3 separate regions of the Homo sapiens genome follow, and regions 1 and 3 are each linked to region 2. The links come from fine-mapping of genetic effects on gene expression. A gene starts in region 2. Each other region holds a variant in brackets. All regions are shown on one strand. Distances are from middle to middle.

Region 1 (7,295 bases), 740 kb before region 2:
AAATTAATCAAGAAGAGACAGGAGGCCTCAGAGGATGCCCAGACCTGGGTGGTCCAAGCTGTGGCCTGTACCCATTCCTGGGTTGTACCATCAATTTAGTGGGCCATGAGCAGCATTAGAAAGATGTATATATTTTCCTATATGTGTCCTGGGTCACAAGATGAAATGTATTTCTTACGGTATTCTGTCCAGAAAAGTCTGAAATCTACCAACTTTAGTCCAGTATCCTCTTCATACCTCTGAGAATGAGAAGCCCAGAGAGGCAGGGTGAGTTGCCCTCCAGGCCAGCACTTTTCCTGGGGCCCCTTGGCTTGGCTGGAGGCTCCTTTGCAGGCTGCTCCCAGCCCCAAGGTCAAGGATTACTGGCAGCCTCGGGGTCCCTGGGATTACATGGGAGCTGTGCACCCCTAAGGGGAGGGCAGCAGGTACTGCCAGGACTGGCCCCGATGCTCACCTGGGGACATGGCCTTCATGTCTCGGGGGAACTTGCGGCACACGTTGTTGTAGTTGGTGCAGATGTGGTGGAGACACCAGTCGGCCAGCTGGTACGCACAGTGGAACTGGGGACAGAAGGGAAGAACGTCTGTACTGAAATCCCCAGGGGAGAGGGTCTGCATAGACACCTCCAGCTGCCTTCAGAGCTGAAGCTCTGGTGCAGGGCACGCAGAGGCCCTGCAGTTCTAGAGAGCCTGCGCCAGAGGCAAGGCCACACAAAACTGAGGATGATGATGCTGCCTCAGGCTCCTTGGCACCACCGCCAGCACCACCATCATCTCACCTCTGTTCTGCCCACTCCTGGCATCCTCGCTGCAGACACCAGAGCCCTATGTAGTGGCTTCATACTGCATCTGCCCTCCTCAGATCTCAACCTACCTGACTTCTCTCTCCTCCACATCTGGGATCAAGGCAGCCTGCACGGAGGCACTGACAATGAGCTAAGGGAGCTGCCTTCCCAGGGGTGTCTGCAAGCCCTGCCTGAGCCGTGCTTCCACTCCACACACTAATCTTTGGTGGCTGAATTTCTGGCACTGTGAAGGCCACTGTGGGAGATTTGGCTTGTTTGTTTGGGATTAAGGGAGTAGGCGGTTAATTTCAGATGGAAAGTCCTCAGTGCCCCTTAAATGACCTCAGGCAGGCAGCAACCATGTGTAAGCCTGAGCCTGGGGTTCCCTCCCCAGCCCTACTGCTGCCTAAAGCCTCATCCCTTCCCCACTTGGTCAGCTCCCCTCCGGGTACACCAGGGAGTTCCCCAGCTGCTTCCTGGCATGGAGGAGGAGATGGGCTACGCGCAGTCAAAGAGCCCAGTCCGATGACAGGTTCTCCCGCATAGACCATCTTCCACCCCTTCCCATTCGCAGCCAATGGGCAGGCAGAGTGTAGAACTGAGACTGTTGTAGATTCCCTCCCCTGCCATGATACCTGAGCCAGTTCCAGGAACACAAGGACGTCCCCATCGATGTCCACCATCATCTGGGTCGCTTCCATCAGCCCGGTCACTGTGTACTGCTCTGTAACACACACGGCCACCAATCAGCTGAAGAAGCACATGACCTGTGCTCACCCTGCCCCACCACATCCCCCAGCTCACTTCAGGGTGAGGAAAACCAGGGCCCGGGCAGGTCCGGACAGGCCAGGAAAGGCCCCAGGCTATGACGTCTGCTGCCACCAGGGGGACCCCAGGGATGACAGCAAGAGCTCAACGGGGTAGGGTAGGAAGAGAAGGAGGACATTGGAATTACCTAAGAGGATTTTTCAAACTACGTATGTCCCGTGACATAATCTGATACAGGTAGGGTCAAAGTTCCCAACAGAACCAGCCTCTGATACAAAAGGGAGAGTGTGTGAAACCTCATGTCTGCTGATCACAGAAAAAGGCTGAGAACTGTGAGTTAGAACTAGGAGTTAAGTCTAGTTGTTTGTTTTAATTTAAATTTTGTAAAAAATTGTGTACTAACCTTGTATTTTAAGTTAAAACACTTATATTGAAGAAGTAAACACCCTTGGTTCTGAATTTTAATTAGAAGTATCAGTATAAACTCATGAGGTATCTTATCTTTAAAAAGATCAATATATTTCCCAGCTCTGCCCCCAGAAAAGACCTAGAAACAACAGTCATCCCAGTACAATGAGCATTCCTAGTGCACACAAATACCAGTTCCACTTCCAACACAAGAAACTAGGACTTCCTGGAGAAATGGCTGATTCCAGGTCTGGGGCACAGAACCTTCAAGAGGAACCTAGAACATCTCATCATTCCAGATAGAGAGGAAGCTCGTAAGACTCTGGAGTCAAGCCAAAGAGTGCAGGATTTGAGCTTCAGCAAGGATAACTGCAATTAACTGAAACCAATCAAGAATGTTCAAATCTAAGGGGCCATAATAATACTTCAAAAACAAACAACTGGCCGGGCACGGTGGCTCACGCCTATACTCCCAGCACTTTGGGAGGCCAAGGCGGGTGGATCACTTGAGGCCAGGAGTTCAAGACCAGCCTGGCCAACATGGTGAAACCCTGTCTCTACTAAAAATACAAAAATTAGCCGGGTGTGTTGGTACGTGCCTGTAATCCCAGCTACTCGGGCGACTGAGGCATGAGAATCTCCTGAACCTGGGAGGTGAAAGTTTCAGTGAGCCGAGATCACATCACTATACTCCAGCCCAGGTGACAGTAAGACTCCATCTCCAAAAATAAAAAATAAAAGTAAAAAATAATGCAAAAAACCATGCTGTAGTGTTTAATGACACACACTTGGATGATAAAACTATAAAGGAAAGTAAGGCAGTATGCCCATAAAAAGTGCCATAAAAAAAGGAATACTAGGCAAAGGGCTTCCTCTTAGGGAGGAGAGAGGGGTCTGTGAGAGAGGAGGGAGAGGTGGAGGACTTCTGGTGGCCAGCAAGGTTCTAGTTCCTGACATAGGTCATGAGTAGAAAGGCATTTTCTTTATAATAATTCATTAAACTAGGCCAGGCTTGGTGGCCCACGCCTGTAATCACAGCACTTTGGGAAGCCGAGATGGGAGGATCACTTGAGGCTGGAGTTTAAGACCAGTCCAGGCAACACAGTGAGACCTCATCTCTGCAAAAAATTTAAAAATTAGGCCGGGTGTGGTGGCTCACGCCTGTAATCCCAGCACTTTGGGAGGCCAAGGTGGGTGGATCACTTGAGGTCAGGAGTTCAAGACCAGCCTGGCCAACATGGCAAAACCCCATCTCAAATTACAAAAATTAGCTGGGTGTGGTGGTGTATGCCTGTAGTCCCAGCTACTCAGGAGGCTCAGGCAGGAGAATCGCTTGAACCCAGGAGGCAGAGGGTGCAGTGAGCCAGGATTGCACCACTGCACTCCAGCCTGAGAGACCAAGTGAGACTCTATGTCAATAAATAAATAAATAAATAAAAATAAATTTAAAAATTAGCTGGGTGTGATGAGGCAGGCCCATAGTCCAAGGTACTTGGGAAGCTGAGTTGGGAGGAT[C/G]GCTTGAGCCCAGGAATTTGAGGCTGCAGTGAACTATGATCAGGCCATTGCACTCCAGTCTGCGTGACAGAGCAAGATCCTGTCTCTAAAAAAACATAATAACAATAGTAATTCAGTAACCTGAACATATGTTTAATATGCTTTTATGTATTTGTGTTCTACTGAGCAATAAAAGTTTTCAACTTGAATTAATGGCCTCATAGGAAGCATATGTCACAAAACTTAAACCATCGCCAATTATATAAAACTTGGCATCTTCCCCTGATCCTTAACAAGGCAGATATAAACATTTTTGTGGATGTTCCCTAGTGTGTATCGATAATTTCATGAAAAGTTACTTAACATTATTTTCAATAAGCCTTTCCATGCAGCAGTCTAGTTTAACATTTTTAATGACTACCATGTGAAAACTGCCTGTGTGTGCTTCACCAACGGTTTTTCTGTGACTTGCTTTCAATTGCCTGCCATGACGAAATGAACTTCTAGAAATACCTTTATGCATTTTTCCCCTTTGGGTCATTTCTCTGGAGATAGTCTTTTAAAAGTGGAATTATTCCATCTAGGAATTTGAAGTTTTATGTGCTCTGGGAAGATCACACCATTTTTTTATGGACAGCAAAACAAGATATACTGTTGTAGCTGGGATCTTTAGATGCCTCTCTTGCTACCTGCCCCAAAGTTCCCTTTATCCCCTTCTGGGGACCCTGGACTCCCACTGCAGCCTCCGCTCTTAATATTCTGGTTCTGATCAATGATTTCTGCCTTCTTTCTGTAACCCAGCCCCACCTTATCATTCATTTTTCCTCACGGATTGCTGTTTTCCCTCATATCTGAGCCCCGATCTTGATCATCTGCCTGGACCCCAGCAGCTCTGACACTGGGTTCTTCCCTGAATCTCAACTCAGTATGTGAGGATGTGCTCTCTGTCCCCGACCTATGCAAGAATATTAACCTCGGCATCAACACCAGCGCTGGTACCCCTGCCGCCACCACTAGCAACTCAAGTGCCAACTCCAACATGAACGAGAGCCGTCTGCCTGCCTGGGTCTCTGGCCCCAGGCTCCCTTCACCCCACGAGCACCACTTCTCTTCCCTGGCCCCTTGGACCCAGACTGCCTGCCGCTGGCTCTCCCCCATGACTCAGTTCTTGTTCCAACTCAGAGAGCCCCTGGGATTTGTCCACACTAAAAGCTGAGCTCCGGCTCGTACAATCCGTGCAGGGACTAAGGAGTGGCAGGGATGTTTGTGTGCTGTTTCTGGAAAGAGGATGAGAAGGTGATGTCAAAGGTAGGGGAAGAAGAAAAAAGGCAAAAGAAGAAAAATAAAAGGAAAGGAAGAAGGAGGAGAACCACAGGGTAGAAATGTGGGAATTGTGTTCTATTATTTTTTGACTTCTTAAGCTTGTCCAAGTGAAGCCAAGCAAAGAACATAAAGCACTGTCATGTTCCATTTTTTGTTTGTTTGTTTTTGAGACACAGTTTCACTCTGTCACCCAGGCTGGAGTGCAGTGGTGCAAACTCAGCTCACTGCAAACTCCACCTCCCGGGTTCAAGCAATTCTCTTGCCTCAGCCTCCCGAGTAGCTGGGATTACAGGCGCCTGCCACCAAACACAGCTAATTTTTATATTTTTAGTAGAGACGGGTTTCATGGCAGTTTGCCATGACGGGTAAGACCATGTTGGCTAGGCTGGTCTTAAACTCCTGGCCTCAAGTGATCCTCCCGCCTTGGCCTCCCAAAGTGCTGGGATTATAGGTGTGAGCCTCTGTGCCCAGCCTCATGTTCCATTTTGTTGGGTTTAAATCGCCTTTGGAGAGAGCCTCTCAGGTGACCCCATCAAACATGCCCCGCACCACCCTTCTTCACTCTGTGTCCTCATCCAGAACTCTGTGCCCGTCAACAGATTCCATTTCATGTACGCTTAGTCCCTTGGACATCAGCTTGTCCCCCAGGAGAGACGTGAGAGGAGAACATTGCACCTTGGGGTTTCCCTGGCCTCTGCCGCGGGGAGGTCCCCGAGTGCACTGCTTAGTTACCTGTGAGGGCAACCAGGTGTGGCAGGCAGAGGCGGTTGGCTAGAATGATGAGCTTCATGTCATCCAGGTCGGGGCTGGAGGTGAACATGCCGGTGTAGAGGTATTCCAGCACGGCCCGCATGCAGCTCTTGCTTGTGTAGGGAAACACCACCTGGGGAGGGAAGGAGTGAGCGGACAGCAATGAGATCCTGCTTAGGAGAAGATGAACTGAACCCTGAGAAATTGAAGAGCTCTGGCCCTCACACCCAGGCTCCCCCAGACGGGCAGCCTTCCCTGTGCTGCATGTGTATCTGCTGAGAAGACCCTGAGAACACCTGACCCCTAGAGCGACAACCTGTGCTGAGCCCCAGTTTGCTGACAGCACCAGAGTACAGGCCTCTACTATCATTTATGTGTTTATTTTTAGAAACAGCGTCTTGTTATGCCATCCAGGATGGTCTTGAACTCCTGGTCTTAAGCATTCCTCCTGCCTCAGCCTCCTCAGTAGCTGGGACTATAGGCACAAGCCATGGCGTCCAGCTTCTAAACTCTTCCAAAGGGACCCAGATACTACTCACTGGCACCCTTTGGAAGCCGCTCTTGCTCGCGGGATGCTTGAAGGAGGCCTTCTGGTCACCTCAATCTACACCTCAGTCCCTCCCATCCCTGCACAGAACAGAAGTGGGATACAGAATAAGTAAGGCCCACAGCAGCTGATTTCTTTCTGTCTGCTCAGAGCTGCTGCTTTGGGCCTCCAGGATCTCTTGAGAGCAGCGCTGCAACACAAACTGCCTTCTCATCAGGCTCTCCAGGCTGTGCTGGGAACTGGCTAGAAGTTTAAAGCTGGCGTCTACAGTACCGAGAAGTGCCCGGGGCTGGCAGGCCCCTGGGGCTTGTGAGAGCTCCTAGTCTCACATTTTGTATATCCAAATCCTACTCCCACTTCAGAGACCAACTCCCAACGCTTCCACTTAGCCTTCCTTAAGTACTTCCTTCCCAGAAATCTTAGAAAATGCACATTCCACATCACGGGATGCGATGCAGCCCAGCCTCGTGCTTGGTTCTGTTTTTCATTCAAGCATTTGGTGAGCATTTCCCAAGAGACTGGCGCTGAGAGGGTTTTTGGCAGAAGGAAAAAGACCCAGTCCCTGCGCTCAGAAGCAGTTACAGAACAGTAGGGGAAACGGTGTGGACGTTCAGAACTCCACGCGCCTGCACAAAGTCGAACCTCGTTAACTACAAGGTTCGACGACACTCAGTGATGGGCAATTGAGGTCCAGGAGTTCAGAGCACACCAAGGGCTACTGCCCAGGCTACTCTGCTTGGAATGGAAAAGAGACCAAACCTAAGAGAATATTTCTAAGGACACATTGATAGGCTTCTTCCAACCCTAAGTTTCCAATCTAGGTGAGTGAGAAAGTGGTGGCATCGTGAGAGCTAGAGGGTCACTGATTAGAGAGGCAGGTGGTTCTATTAAGTATGCTTTTCCTTCCCTTCCTCCCTCCCTCCCTCCCTTCCTTCTTTTCTCTCTCTCTCTCTTTTTTTCTTTTTTTCTGTAGAGATGGTGTCTGTGTTTCCCAGGCAGGTCTCAAACTCCTGGGCTCAGGCAATCCTCCCACCTCAGCCCCTCAAAGTGCTGGGATTACAGGTGTAAGCCACCCCCTACACCTATTTTCTGTATTTTGTTGCTTTGACAACTAAAGCCTTGCTGGCCCTATAGGGACTGCCTCCCTCAGGGCTGGCCAAGTCCTAGGGATAGTGAAGGAGTTGCCTGCAAGTGTGCCTTTCATATGCAAACCAACCAATC
Region 2 (7,295 bases):
TGGGGGTTGGGAACCCCTGCCTTAGAGGCCCGTGTCCTCCTTGAACTTACTTATATTTTCTACCCAAATAGCCTCTCACAAAACTCAGTCCTGTGAGTTAACTAGCTGTTGTATAAGGAAGCAGTTTTTTAGGAGGGTCTCCTTCTGTCGCCCAGGCTGGAGTGCAGTGGCATGATCATGGCTCACTGCAGCCTTGACCTCCTGGGCTCAAGTGACCCTCACATCTCAGTCTCCTGAGTAGCTGGGACTACAGGCATGCACCACAACACCCAGCTAATTTGTACATTTTTTGTACAGACGGGGTCTTGCCACGTTGCCAAGGCTGGTCTCAAACACCTGGGCTCAAGAGATCTGCTGCCTCAGCATCCCAAAATGCTGGGATAATAGGTGTGAGCCACTGCACCTGGCTAAGGCAGTTTTTATGTATGAGGATGACTTTGGTTTATAAACAATTTCTTTTCCTCCCCCCCTTTTTTTTTTAGACGGAGTTTCACTCTTATTGCCAAGGCTGGAGTGCAATGGTGCAATCTTGGCTCACCGCAACCTCTGCCTCCTGGGTTCAAGTGATTCTCCTGCCTCAGCGTCCCGAGTAGCTGGGATTACAGGCATGCAGCACCATGCTCGGCTAATTTTGTATTTTTAATAGAGACGGGGTTTCTCTATGTTGGTCAGGCTGGTCTCGAACTCCCGACCTCAGGCGATCAGCCCACCTGGGCCTCCCAAAGTGCTGGGATTACAGGTGTGAGCCACTGTGCCTGGCCTATAAACAATTTCATAGTTAACACAGCCATATCATAAAATTATTGTCAACAAATATTTATGGGTTTTTGCTTTGTTTTTGGCCTCTCTTTCCTACATAAGAGTCCTAACTTTTTTCCAGTCTATGATTGCACCAAATTCTCTTCCTTGATCTGTTTAGCTGCTTCTCCGAATCTCTATCCAATTCTTTTTTACAAAATTCTTCCTTCAGGCTGAGCACACACACACAGTGGTTCATGCCTGTAATCCCAGCACTCTGGGAGGCCCAGGTGGGAGGACCATTGAGGCCAGGAGTTTGAGGCCAGTCTTAGGAACACAACGAGACCCTGTCTCTACAAATAATTAAAAAATAGAAAAAAAAATTTTAAAAACTCTCTTCTTTCAAACTCCATCAGAAGTCTCCAGAGTACACAGTCTTTCTGCTTTGAGCCTACAATACTTGCTCAGTCTCACAGGTTGCATTTAACACCCTTCTCTCTCCCAGGTTACCCGGGGTGAGGCTCTCCCTGGCTTCCCTACCAAATCTAAAGCCCATCAGGTCTCTTCAAAATCACTTCATAACCTGTAGGTCGGGCATGGTGGCCCATGCCTGTAATCACAGCACTTTGGGAGGCCGAGGCGGGTGGATCACTTGAGATCAGGAGCTCAAGAGCAGCGTGGCAAACATGATGAAACCCTGTCTTTACTAAAAATACAAAAATTAGCCAGGCATGGTGGTGCATGCCTGTAATCCCCCCTCCTCAGGAGTCTGAGGCACAAGAATTGCTTGAACCCAGGAGGCGGAGGTTGCAGTGAGTCAAGATCGTGGCACTCCAGCCTGGGTGACAGCACAAGATTCTGTCTCAAAAAAAAAAATATATATATATATATCACTTTATAACCTACAGATTTCAAGACTCCCTCTTTAAGGGGCTCCTCTCATTGTCCTGACTTGCCCCTGATTCCTGAAAAATATTTCTTAACGGAAAAGAATTTTTTTTTTTTAAGAGACAGGGTCTTGTTCTGTCATCCAGGCTACAGTGAAGTGGTGGCATCTTAGCTCACTGCAGTCTCAACCTCCTGTGCTCAAGCAGTCCTCTTGTCTCAGCCTCCCAAGTAGCTAGGACTTCAGGCACCTGCCACCATACCCAGCTAATTTTTAAAAAAAATTTGTAGAGACGGGATCTTGCCATGTTGCCCAGGCTGGTCTCAAACTGCTGACCTCAAGTGATCCTCTCACCTCAGACTCCCCAAATGCTGGGAGAAGCCTCTTCTTAACTTTCAAAAAGCTGTCTTGGCCGGGGGTGGTGGCTCGCGCCTGTAATCCCAGCACTCTGGAAGGCCAAGGTGGGCAGATCACAAGGTCAGGGGTTCGAGACCAGCCTGACCAAAATGGTGAACCCTCATCTCTACTAAAAATACAAAAATTAGCTGGGCATGGTGGCCTGCGCCTGTAATCCCAGCTACTCGGGAGGCAGAGGCAGGAGAATCGCTTGAACCTGGGAGGCGGAGGTTGCAGTGAGCAGAGATCACGCCACTGCACTCCAGCCTGCGCTACGGAGCGAGACTCCGTCTCAAAACAAACAAACAAACAAACAAAAAAGCTGTCTTAAGTATTAGCTACAGAGAAATCATACATTTAAAGAAAATATTAACACACAATTCATAAACCCACAGCGTAAGTGCAGACAGTTCAGGAACTTGCAAAATTTATTGAACTAAACTATCCTCTTTCACACTCTAAACGCAGGATATGACTCCCTTTCTTGAAGGCTATATTTAACTGCTAACACCCCTTTTCGGTGAGCCAGGACTCTGCTCACACCTCCCCAACACCACCCAAAGAATCCCAAGCAATCAGTATGCTAACAGCTACATACTCAGAAGCGCTGGACGGCCTCCCTTAAGGGACATCTGGAATCTTCCTCTTTGTCCACGCTTCCCTCAACCTCCAGCACCACTTCTATAGATTCAGGTAGCTCCCCCAGAGGGCCCTCTCCCAGTGTGGGTTTCCCCCTGGGATCAGGTAGCAGATACTTGGCTGTCCGAAAGGTTCAATGGGGAGCGAACCCAGGACGGGCTGGGCCTGCCTCCCTCGCATCCCTGGGTGCGTGCTCCGCGCTGAGGCCTCGCGACTCGGGCCTAACCAGAAGCAAGGCCCCCGAAGGCGAGTCCCATCCCCTTTCCACCCCGAGAAAAGCACCTTTCCCCAAAGCCACAGCCCTGCCAGGGGTTCTATCTCCTCTCTCAGGCCAAATAAGACGTCCACTTGGGCCTCCGGAGGGCCTCCCCTGCCGCCCCAACCTGGACACCTTCTTGGGGCCGCGGCGCCGGGCCTCGAATAACGACTTCCCGCCCCCGCCCGACCCGCAACCCTCAGCAGCTCCCCGAAGTGGGAGGGGAGAGGCCCGGGAGGGCGGCTCACCCCACGTGCTTGAGCAAAAACCCAACCTGCCCGCCCCCGAGCGACCCTGGCCTGCCTGGCATGCCGCAACCGGGGCCAGTACTCACCTGTGCGCGAGTCCTCGCCCCAGTCGCCCAGCTCCGCGCGGCCTCAGGGGAAGACCGAGCTCAACCCACGCCCCGGGGCCCACATGCTCCAGGGCCAATTTCCGCTCTTCGAGGCCTCCGGGGATGAGCCCATTGGCCACAAGACCTGTCGTTCACAAGAGCAAGCTATCTAATTGGCCCATCTGCAAGAGAGGCTCGTCCTTTCCAGCAGGTTCCCTGTGCAGGGGCGGTTCGTGCGGAAGGAGCGCTGGGAGTTATGTGAACCTCAGCGTTAAAATGTGTTAGGGTTTGGAGATCCTGACTCCCTTTCTGGGGGCAACTCCTATAAACAGATTTAGCCTAAGACTCGCGTGTTGAAATTGACTTGCCCCATTCCTGCCAGTTAAGAGGATTAGCGATACAGGTGGTGAAAAAGAAACGGTAAGCTCGAGTGCGCATTCAAACACCTAATTCATATGATTTCTGCACATCACTTTCGTTATACATAAAACAGAGATAAAAACTAAAAACATCCATTCATAGGGTTGAATGGAAATGTACACACATAATGACATAACGTATGTAAAATACTTAGCACAAGGAGAAGACGACCCTCGATAAATGTTGCCTATTTTTATTGATGCCTAAATCTGTGAGCCAAGAAGAGCTTTCTAGGAAGCAGATTAAATTATCAGTGGTTACTTCAGCAACTACAGAATGATTTTACCCAAAGAAAGATTTCTGACCCTCTCCCAACCATTTTGTCAAATAACTGCATCCCTCTCCCACACCCAGGTTTTACAGTGTGGTTGAGGTAAAGCTTCTGAAGGCTTTGGCGGATGCTATAGAGACATCCAAGGGCTCTGCATGGAATAGGACTAGAGAAGGGTTAACCTTATTTTTTCCAGGCCTCAGATATCCCATGACTTATTTTAATCCACACATACAAGGGCCCTCCCTATCCTTCCCGAATGAGGATAGTCTGAAAATTATTGGAGCAGGATGATTTTCAACTCAGGAATCCAGTTGGCACGATGCCCCTTCACTGTTCCTAGATAGTATTTGTTTACCATGATCTAACATTTTCACTTCCTTTACCACACAACCTTCTTAACTTGCAGCTGTTGCAATGTTATGTTGTAAGCAATTCTCCTGCCTGTGCAAATACTTAATGGTAGCAAGTGCAGTCAAAAACAGTTATACAAACTGTTTTGTAACTTTCGTGAAGATCCAACTCCTTGTTCTTTTAGGAACTCCGACCAAACTTTGCATGACACACTTATTCTATACACATGAAACAATATTTTGGGGGCAGGATTCAGCAAATCTTCTAGTTGAAGTAAGGGAATAATAATCCTCAGATAATTTCCTGAGTATGTCTTCTATTTGGGAACCTAAACCAAGAGCACCATTACAAAGGGTATGCACATTGGGTTTCCTAGATTTCTATATCCTGTCCATCCATGCAAGTGTAGGTGGCCTTCGTACAGTATTTCTAGCTAATCCAGACATCATTAACACTACTTATTTAACCAAAGGAAAATCCATATAGTCCTGCTGTTGATTGGACATAAAAATGGTTGAAGCTTTCTGAAACGTGGACATCTATTTAGGACCTTTCAAAAGCTAATCAACCTCTTTTGGAGATTATATTCCCTAACAGAGTACTTTAATTGTTAATTAGCCATCCCTAGGATATTGATTAAAAAGGACACACATAATCTCATCACAAAAAGATGAGTATGTGAGGTGATGGATATGTTAATTTGGTTTAATCATTCCACAATGTAAATAAATATCAGAATATCATACTGTACCACATAACCATATGTAATTGCTATTTGTTAATTAAAAATGAAAGGGGCAAAAAGAGCACGTATATCACACTAAGAGATAGTATTTTGAGATAAATCACAGATTTTTTTTTTAACTCAAAAAAGTCGTAACACCAAATTCTGTCCACCTGGCCCTGCCAGTCTCTAAAATTCAGAGTGAAAATGGCCCCATAACTATACATAACCTGAATTTTCCTAGGCAGTCATGACTCCAAATACCCTGGGCACTTGGTCACCATAAATATTTCTATTCCAACCATGTATTCTGGTTTGTTGTTGTTGTTGTTGCTGCTGTTCAGAAAATAAGATCCCCAGAGCCACAGCAAGATTAAGGGCAGAAAATTACATTACTGGTGGGGCCTAAAACCTATAGGAAGGATTTCATTTAAAGTAGACCTATGTAGTATGTCTGGGTTCCTGGCAGAGATAACTAGAAATCCTTTCAGGAGAAATACACCAGGCTCCCAAAACTCCCACGTAAAAGGTATGAATAAATATGAGCTCACGAAACACATCAGGCCGAATAACAGGAGGACACACAATCTAATAAAAAAATGGGCAAAAGGTATGGTGGCTCACATCTGTAATCCCAGCACTTTAGGAGGCCAATGTGGGCAGATGGCCTGAGGTCAGGAGTTCGAGACCAGCCTGGCCAACATGGTGAAATGCTGTCTCTACTAAAAACATAAAAATTAGCCAGGCATGTTGGTGTGGTGCCTGTAATCCCAGCTACTCGTGAGGCTGAGGCAGGAGAATCACTTGAACCCGGGAGGCGGAGGTTACAGTGAGCTGAGATCACGCCACTGCACTCCAGCCTGGGCAACAAGTGCAAAACTCTCTCTCAAAAAAAAAGGGGGGGGGGCCAAAAGATGTGAGTGGACCTGTGTCAGTCCATTAGTCCCTTTAGTGTTACTATAAAGGAATACCTGAGGCTGGGTAATTTATAAAGAAAAGAGGTTTATCGAGCTCATGGTTATGCTGGCTGGAAGGTTCAAGACTGGACACCTGGTGAGGACCTCAGGGTGCTTCCACTCATGGCAGAAGGCAAAGAGACCCGGCCTGTGCAGAGATTACATGGAGAGAGAGGAAGCAAGAGAGGGGAGGGAAGCGCTAGGTTCTTTTTAACAACCAGCTCTTGTTGGAACTAATAAGCCCTTTAGTAGAGACAGGGTTTCACCATATTGCCCAGGCTGGTCTTGAACTCAGTGGCTTATGGGTGTGAGCCACCACCCCTGACTGGAGCCGTAAAATTTAATGGAATTTGTCCTTCAGTATCTGCAGAGTATTGGTTTTTAGGACCTCCCTCCATGGATACCAAAATTCACAGATGCTCAAGTCTCTTATATAAAATGGTGTATTTTATATTTGCATATAACCTATGCACATTTCCCTGTATACTTTAAATTGTCTCTAGATGAATTATAATACCAAATACAGTGTAAATGCTACATAAATAGTTGTTACACTGTATTGTTTAGGGAATAATTACAAGAAAAAAGTCTGCACCTGTTCAGTACTGATGCAGCCATCCTTTTTGTTTTTTCCAAATATTTTTGATTTGTGGTTGGTTTAATCCATGGATGCAGAACCCGTGGATAGGGAGGGCCTATTGTATTTAGATGAGATCTTAGACTTGCAATTGATACTGAAACGGTGTAAGACTTTGGGGGCTGTTAGGATGGGGCGAATGTGTTGCATGTGAGAAGAACATGAATTTGCGGGGGACAGAGGGAGGAATGTTAGGGAGTGAATTGTGTCCTCCTTGCAAAACCTATGTTGAAGCCCTAATCCCCTGTATTTGGAGATAAAGTATGTAGGGAGATAATTAACATAAATGAGGTAAGGAGGAGCTCTAATCTGATAGGATTTGTGTCCTTATCAGAAGAGAAAGACATGAGATCTTTCTCTATCTCTATCCCTCTCTCTTCATGGAAGCACAGAGACAAGGCCATGTGAGGACACAGCAAGATGGCGGCCATCTATAAACTAGGGAGATGGTACTCACCAGAAATCAAATTTGCCAGCACCTTGATCATAGAATCATAGTCTCCAGAGCTGTGAGAAAACAAATGTGTGTTGCTGAGGCCACCCAGTCTGTGGCAATTTGTTATGGCAGGCCTGTCTGACTAATAGAATAACAGAAGTCAGCAAGGATGTGGTGGAACAGGAACCCTCAGACATTGCCAGTGGGAATGTAAAATGATGCAGCCTCTTTGGGAAACATTTGGCAGT
Region 3 (7,295 bases), 980 kb after region 2:
TAGGGAGTGTCATGCCCTCATATTCAAAAGACTCTTTGGCTAAATATAATACTCAAAATTTTATGGTTATTTTTCTGAATACTTTGAAATTATTACTCTATTACTCATAATTTTATAAATATTTTATATAAGCTTGAAAATGTACATTATAAAGTTGTTGAAGACACTACATATGTCCATTAAGTCAAGTTCTTTGTGTTGTACATATTATCTTTATTCTGGATAATCTTCCGTTATTTCACCTATCAAGTAGAGAGGTATGTTGAAATTTCCTACCATAATGGTGATTTAATCAAAAACTTTTTAGCAGTTTTATCACTTTTTCTTTGTATACTTTGAGAATATTAAAGCAATAAAGTTTTAAGAATTGCTAAATGGTTTTGGTGTATCAAAACTTTTAATCACTATGAAATAGCTCTCATCACTAATAACTTTTTTCTAGTAATCTTGTTTAAATCATATTAAAATATCTATATAATCTTTCTTTAGATTTTTCCTGATACATTTTTCCATTCTTTTTCAACCATTTTTTTCTTTAGAATTTCTGTTTTAGACAACAGATGCCAGTATTGAAAAAATTCAACCTGCCAATTTTTGTTTAATAATTGTCTAAAATACATTTTAATTATTTACATATTTGGGCCTATTTATAAAATTTTGATATTTCAATCTGTCCTGTATTTTCTGCTTACAAAAGATTTCATCACCTTACTTCACTCCTCTTTTGCAACATCTGGAATTTTCTCTCCTTTATTTAGGAAGTTTGTTCAGAACTGTTTTCAGTGTGGGTCTTTCTACAGTCATTTATCTGAGCCTTTGCCTGCCTAGAATATTATTTGTCATGCCATCATATTCAAAGGACTCTGGCCAAATATAATATTCTAAATGTTATGGTTATTTTTCTGAATACTTCGAAATTATTACTCTATTATCATCTTGGATTCAGTGTTGCTTTTTATAAAATCTGTTTCTTGTTTTTAGATTTTTGTTTTTTGAATGCTATATGCTCTTTTCCTTTGTAAATTTTTATAATTTCCACATATATAATTAGGGATATATCCTTAAACTTTTTAATAGTATGTCTGAATGTGGGCTTTTCCTTATCTCTTCCTTTATGGATTTTTTTTTATCTGAGATCTTTATTTAAAAGACAATTTTAGAAAATATAGCTCACTATTCAAATATTCAAATATTTTCTCTTTTCTATTTGTTTCTCTCTCTTTCTGGTACTTCTTTTTAATTGAAATTTCAGCACTTTAACTTCTATTCTCCATTTCTCTTAACTTCTTTTATATTTTCTATTAGTTTGCCTTTTCATTCTTCATTCATTCAGTCTGCTATCTCCTATCTTCTTTTATCTCTCTCTCTTTTTTTCTTTTGTGGGACCGAGTCTTGCACTGTGGCCTGGGCTGGAGTGCAGTGGTGCAATCTCGGCTCACTGCAACATCCACCTCCCAGGTTCACATGATTCTCCTGCCTAAGCCTCTCGAGTAGCTGGGATTGCAGGCACACACCAACACACCAGGCTCATTTTTTGTACTTTTAGTAGAGACAGGATTTCACCATGTTAGCCAGGGTGGTCTCAAACTCCTGGCCTCAAGTGATCTGCCCACCTCAGTTGCCTGAAGTGCTGGGATTACAGGCGTGAGCCACTGGGCCTGGCCTCTTTTATCTCTCTTAAGAAAAATTGTCTGAAACTTGGAACTAAGGCAAAGGAAAAGCGCAAGTCCTTTTAGTGTCATACTGGAGCATTGTTTAGTTCCGTTCAAAGATTATCTAACTCTTAGGATAATTGCTTTTGACTTATTCCTTATAACTGCTTAGGGCTCATATTGTGTGAAGCTACAGGTTAATCTGTCAATAATTGATACATAAAAACTAATTTCTGTCTAGTAGAAAAGAATACCTTAAAGGTTTTATTTTTGTTTTCTTTTGCTCTGTAAGACATTAACTGATTTGGTGTCTGATTTAGCAATCATATTCTAGTAATCTGTCTTCCATTGACTATACATATATACCCCATCTTTCAAATTCTCATTTGAACCAACTTTAGCATTCTTTTGGAGTTAAATCTGAGTTAAAATACATTTCACTATGATTTGTATGAGAGTCATATCTTTAACTGTTTGAAAATTATTCTTTGCAACCTCCTTTTAAGTTTTTTTGGCTAATTTAAAATGATTGGCTTTCTAATTATTTTGCTTCTAATTATTTTACTTCCAGTGCACACAATAACCTAACATGTTTTTGTTTTGAAATGATTGGGCCTTACAATGTCTTTTTATTTTGACATACATGCCTTTCCCTCACCAACAGAGATACTGGGTATTTTGTAAGGAAATGAGTATTCAGGGAAATAGACCCTGTAACTGTGAGTCCCTGTGAGCTTAGTGTGGATGTAATGGAGAAGATATGCCTGGGGAGGACTGTCCAGCACCAGAGAGCTGGAGTGACACCTCCACCCCGGCCCCTAAATAACTCCTCAAGTCACCCTGTCACCTTCTTCTGTCCTTACGCTGGGGAGAAGCAGTATCAGGAGGGAACCCTCCTTACATTTGCATCCTGACTCACCTGCACTGAGGGTTTAGATGAGGAGGGTAGCAGAGACTGATTTTACCTAGATCCACCTGTTTTCGTCAGTCTGTCTCAAGCATAGGGCCTCTGGGATGCCATCACTTGCTTCCTGAAGGTGCTGGATTCAGAGCTTGAGTCCTTCCAGGTGTGGGGGCCATCGCTGTATGTCCCAGGAGGATGCTGGGGGAGAGGGAGCAACAGAACTTTAACGGTTCGTTTTCTTCTTCCCCGCTCCCCACAGCCCTCTCTGGTCCTCTTGTGCCCTGTTTCTCCTCTGCAGCTCCTCCAGGGTTGATCTTAGGGAGGGATCCAGATGTCCTAATGGTTTACCATCTTGGAAGGAATGACAATCAGCACTGGCACCTCAAAGTGGGATCCTGCGGCCCACTGCCTTCATGGGCAGATATTCCTAAGATACGACTTATCCCCGGGTCCTGGGATTCGGGTGTGCTGTCATAGCCTTGCCTATTGCTTTACTCCTGGTGCCTTGTGAGACCTCCACTGTGCCGAGTTGTTCCCCCAGCTCTGGCTGTAGGGGAAGGAACACTGCTCTCCACTAGTCCAGTTTGTCTCCAAGGTGGTGCAGTTTCTGTCTTGAATTTCCCACACCACAATG[A/G]TAGCACGTTGAATGGACCTGCCTCAAAAAAAATCATGTCCGACTGGAATCTGTGAGTGTGACCTTTGGAAATAGGATCCTTGCAAAGTAATGAAATTAAGCATCTCAAGATGAGATCATCCTAGATTACCAGGGTGCACTCTAATTCCAGTGACGGTGTTCACATAGGAGAAGAAGAGGGAAAACAGGCACGGAGGCAAGGCCACGTGGAGACAGACAGCGTAGAGTGATGCTGCCACAAGCCAAGAACACAGGGGCCTAAAGCGGGAGACAGAAAGAAGGATTCTCCCCAAGCCGTTGTAATAAGCACAGTCCTGCCGACATCTTGATTTTAGCTTTTGGCCTCCAGCACTGCGAGATAACAAATTTCTGTTGTGTTAAGACAAGTTTGTGAATCTGTTCAGCAGTCATTGGAAACTAACTCAAATAAGAAAGACCAGGCTGTAACCTTTAAGTGTCTTTAGTAAAAGCCTGAGGATAGGCCCAGCGCGGTGGCTCACGCCTACAGTCTCAGCACTTTGCGAGGCCGAGGAGTTGGGCAGATCACCTGAGGTTGGGAGATTGAGACAAGCCTGGCCAACGTGGTGAAACCCTGCCTCTATTAAAAATACAAACAATAGCCGGGAGTGGTTGTGCACTCCTGTAATTCCAGCTACTCAGAGGCTATTGCACAAGAATCGCTTGAACCTGGGAGGCGGAGGTTGCAGTGAGTCGAGACCACGGCACTGCACTCCAGCCTGGGCAACAGAGTGAGACTCCGTTTCGGGGTTTGAGGGGGAAGTCTACGGATAATGGAAGGAAGAAGAGTATGGAGAATAATTTGTAAGCACAAAATAGGCCCAGAGCCATCCTGGGACCCTCCCAGGACTGTCCCACACCAGGGATACTTCCTGCCTCCCTGTGGCCAGAGCGGCATTTGGAAGTTGTCGGGGTGTGGAGATACTGGCCCAATTTCTACCCCTCAGCCTAGAGAGAGGAGGAAGTTCTTTTGCTCACAGCTGACCAAGACTGGCCTTTCAACCCCTCCCAGTCCCAGGATTGACCTTTCCCTTGTTTCAAGAGAAGCTTACTCCCACCTGCAAGCTCTGAGCTCCAATACAACCAATCATCAAATTACCCAAAGGTAGGGTTTTCTAGCCTAAATAGGGGCACAACACCCTGTCCAGGTGAAGCAGCTCCAAGTCAGCCCACTGCAGTTTGAATTTCCAGGTTTCAAAAAAAAAAAATCTCAAAATTGGTGTCACTTGGGTTCATCTTGTTATACTGAGTTCATCTTAAAATGCTTGAAACCTGAGTTTGTAGGAATAGATGCTCTTCGTGAAATCAGTTTTGCTAACAATTACAGCTACGTGAAGTCAGTGCATGAGTGAAGACTTGGAGGGAATCCAAGAATTGCTAATGATTTTGTTAGGCTGGGAAGAGTACGTTAGGTTTAAGGTGATATTACAGGTGAGAGTTTTGGTGTTTATCCTGTCTTGACTTTTAGAGTGCACAATGTTGTTTTTATGGTAAATAAGTATAGACAAAGTTCTGGTGCCGTAAGAAAATTTAGGGGGAAAATATCAGTTTCTAGGGACCAGTTTCTCTGCTGAGAGAAACTTACAGTTTATGTGCATTTCAAATAGTTAATCTGTTGGGGAGGAGAAATGCTTTTCTCTCTTGTTCATAAAGAGGAAACATTTTTTCCCAAATAATTAAAAAAATCGGTCATGAAGAATCCAGGCTGGGTGAGATGAGGGAGGGAGGGAGAGGGAGAGTGAGAGCTGGGGGGAGAGGGAGAGTGAGAGCTGGGGGGAGAGGGAAAGAGGGGAAGAGGGAGAGGGAGACAGAGAGAAGGGAGAGGGAGGGAGAGAGGGGGAAAGAAGGGGGGAAGAGAAAGGGAAATAAAGTGGAGGGAAAAAGGGAGAGGAGAGAAAAAGGGGGGAGATACAGACAGGGAAAGAAAGAGGGGAGAGAAAGGAGAAATTAGAGGAGAGAGAAGGAGAGAAAGGAGCGGGGAGAGATACAAAGGAGAGAGGGAGAGAGGAGCGGGGGAAAGAAAGCGGGTAGAGAGAGAGGGAAATAGAGAGCAGGGAGAAAGGGAGAGAAGGAGATAGACTGGGGAGAGACCCAGAGGAGAGATGAGAGAAAGGGGATTAGGAGAGGGAGGAGGAGAGGGAAAGGAAAGAAAGAAGGGGGAAAAACCGGGAGAAAAAGGGAAAGAGAAGGGATAGGGGAAAGAGGAGAGAAAGAGCCGGGGGGAGAGGGGAGGGAGAGAGAAAAAGTGAGGAAGGAAAGAGACACAGGAGAGAGGAGAGGGAAAGAAGGAAAGAAACGGGGAAGAGAAGGAGGAAGAGTGGGGGGAGGGAGAAGGAGAAAAATGATGAGTAGGGGAGTGAGAAGGTGAAAAAAAGGAGAGTGAGAGAGGGCAGGTGAACACCAGGCCAGGGAATGGGGGGCAACACGAAGACAGCAGAGAGGGGCCAGGGGAGCACCCAGGTCGCAGCCTTTAATTGCCGCCCCTCCCCACCTTGGGCCAGGGCAGAGGAGGGCGGCAGCAGGAAGCTGTGCAGAGCCCAGCAGGAGGAACCTGGATGCCCCCAGGCACTGGGGCAGCGGCTATCCCCACCTGGAACACACTTCTTCATCTCCGCCTGTTGGCGTCCCAAGGGTCCGGTAAGGCTCGCCCCAAATGGTAGCTTTTCTATAAAATCTTTATTGATCAGCCCTCCCCAACACACACACATGTAGTTTGCAAGTTTCTTAAATATTTATTCTATTCTGGCCTGTATGTGCCTCCCTCTTTCCTTAGCCTCTCCTTTCAGACCCTCTGCAGGCTTCTAGTGTTGCCTTTTACAATCGTTCAGGGCAACAAATGTATGCATTTTCAGTGCCTACATTGCGTCTTCCATGTTGTCAAGAGGAATATGTTTATAACTAATTTGAAGCCCAGTGATGAAATGATAGTTAGATTATGCTGTGATAATAACAGAAATCAGTGAAAAGAACATCAAATTATACTTATCTCTTCATTTGTTAAGCACTAGGTTTAGTGTATATGTTTTAAAAATCAGTTACAACTTAGACAAAGCTGTATTTTATAGTCAAAAACAAAAAAGTACTTGCTGGGGACAAGTTGCTCACGCCAGTAATCTCAGCACTTTGGGAGGCTGAGGCAGGCAGATGACTTGAGGTCAGGAGTTCGAGACCATTGTGGCCAACATGGCAAAATATCCGTCTCTACTAAAAATTCAAAAATTAGCTGGGCATGGTGGCATATAATTGTAATCCCAGCTACTCAGGAGGTTGAGGTGGGAGAATTGCTTGAACCCAGGAGATGGAGGTTGCAATGAGTCAAGATCGCACCACCGCACTCCAGCCTGGGAGACAGAGCAAGACTCCATCTCAAAAAAAAAAAAACAAACAAAAAAAACTACCAACAAAAGATTGAAAAGCCATGCCACTCTTTATTATCCGTGCCTATCGTCAGAATCTGTTTAGGCCACATGGCTGTAATGTAGTCACCTCTACATGTGGATTGTGTTTTATTTTTTCGATTGCATATTCTTCTTCTATATATATATATATTTATTATACTTTAAGTGTTTTAATAACAGGCAATATGAGGGTGTGTTAAATGATCATAGAAAGCCTTAGTGTTATCATGTTCTGTTGAAAAATGCTGTTGTCTAAGGTTCATTTAAACTGGAAGGGCTCATGATTCTGTATTACTGTTATTTAGATAACAGTCATAACATTTGTTGTTGCTCCCTCAGTGTTAGATACTGTTCTGAATGCTTTGCGTGTGTTTGTTGGTTCCATTTTAATAACCACAGGAGGAAATTCAGTCCTTAGGGAGGGGCCACAACAGTTGCAGCCCTGATCCAAACCCATGCCATTTCCCTCCATGTCTTCAACGCGATGCTCTCCTGACTCATCATACCTTGTTTCGTTCCAAAAATGTTTTGAGGTGAATGACTTTTTACTATTAGGCTGGCGCAAACATAATTGCAGTTGTTGACGTTAGTTTTAAGGGCAAGACGCGCCATTACATTTGCACCAACCTGGCAATGACTAGCCAAGTGCAATGGCGTGTGCCTGTAGTCCCACTTACTCAGGAGGCTGA

Evidence for each region. PIP is the estimated chance that this variant, and not a neighbour inherited with it, causes the effect.
Region 1: its variant is fine-mapped to the expression of PIWIL2 in cerebral cortex (GTEx, PIP above 0.99).
Region 3: its variant is fine-mapped to the expression of PIWIL2 in tibial artery (GTEx, PIP 0.96).

Annotation. Positions count from the first base shown.
Region 1 is chr8:23,008,903-23,016,197 of GRCh38, reverse strand. RHOBTB2 (Rho related BTB domain containing 2) reads right to left here. Exons shown (of 10, transcript NM_015178.3): 7 at 5,510-5,660; 8 at 1,420-1,508; 9 at 455-560. Among named protein-coding and RNA genes, the nearest start is that of RHOBTB2-AS1, 13 kb to the right of the region's middle. RefSeq lists enhancers at 1,556-1,605, 1,107-1,871, 6,940-7,295. The variant C/G (reference allele first, on the strand shown) is at 3,476.
Region 2 is chr8:22,271,353-22,278,647 of GRCh38, reverse strand. It overlaps PIWIL2 (piwi like RNA-mediated gene silencing 2), which reads right to left and starts at 3,332. Exons shown (of 23, transcript NM_018068.5): 1 at 3,250-3,332. PIWIL2-DT (PIWIL2 divergent transcript) reads left to right here and starts at 3,486. Exons shown (of 2, transcript NR_134293.1): 1 at 3,486-3,669. RefSeq lists an enhancer at 2,407-3,052.
Region 3 is chr8:21,293,684-21,300,978 of GRCh38, reverse strand. LINC03093 (long intergenic non-protein coding RNA 3093) reads right to left here and starts at 2,740. Exons shown (of 3, transcript NR_104677.1): 1 at 2,572-2,740. The variant A/G (reference allele first, on the strand shown) is at 3,191.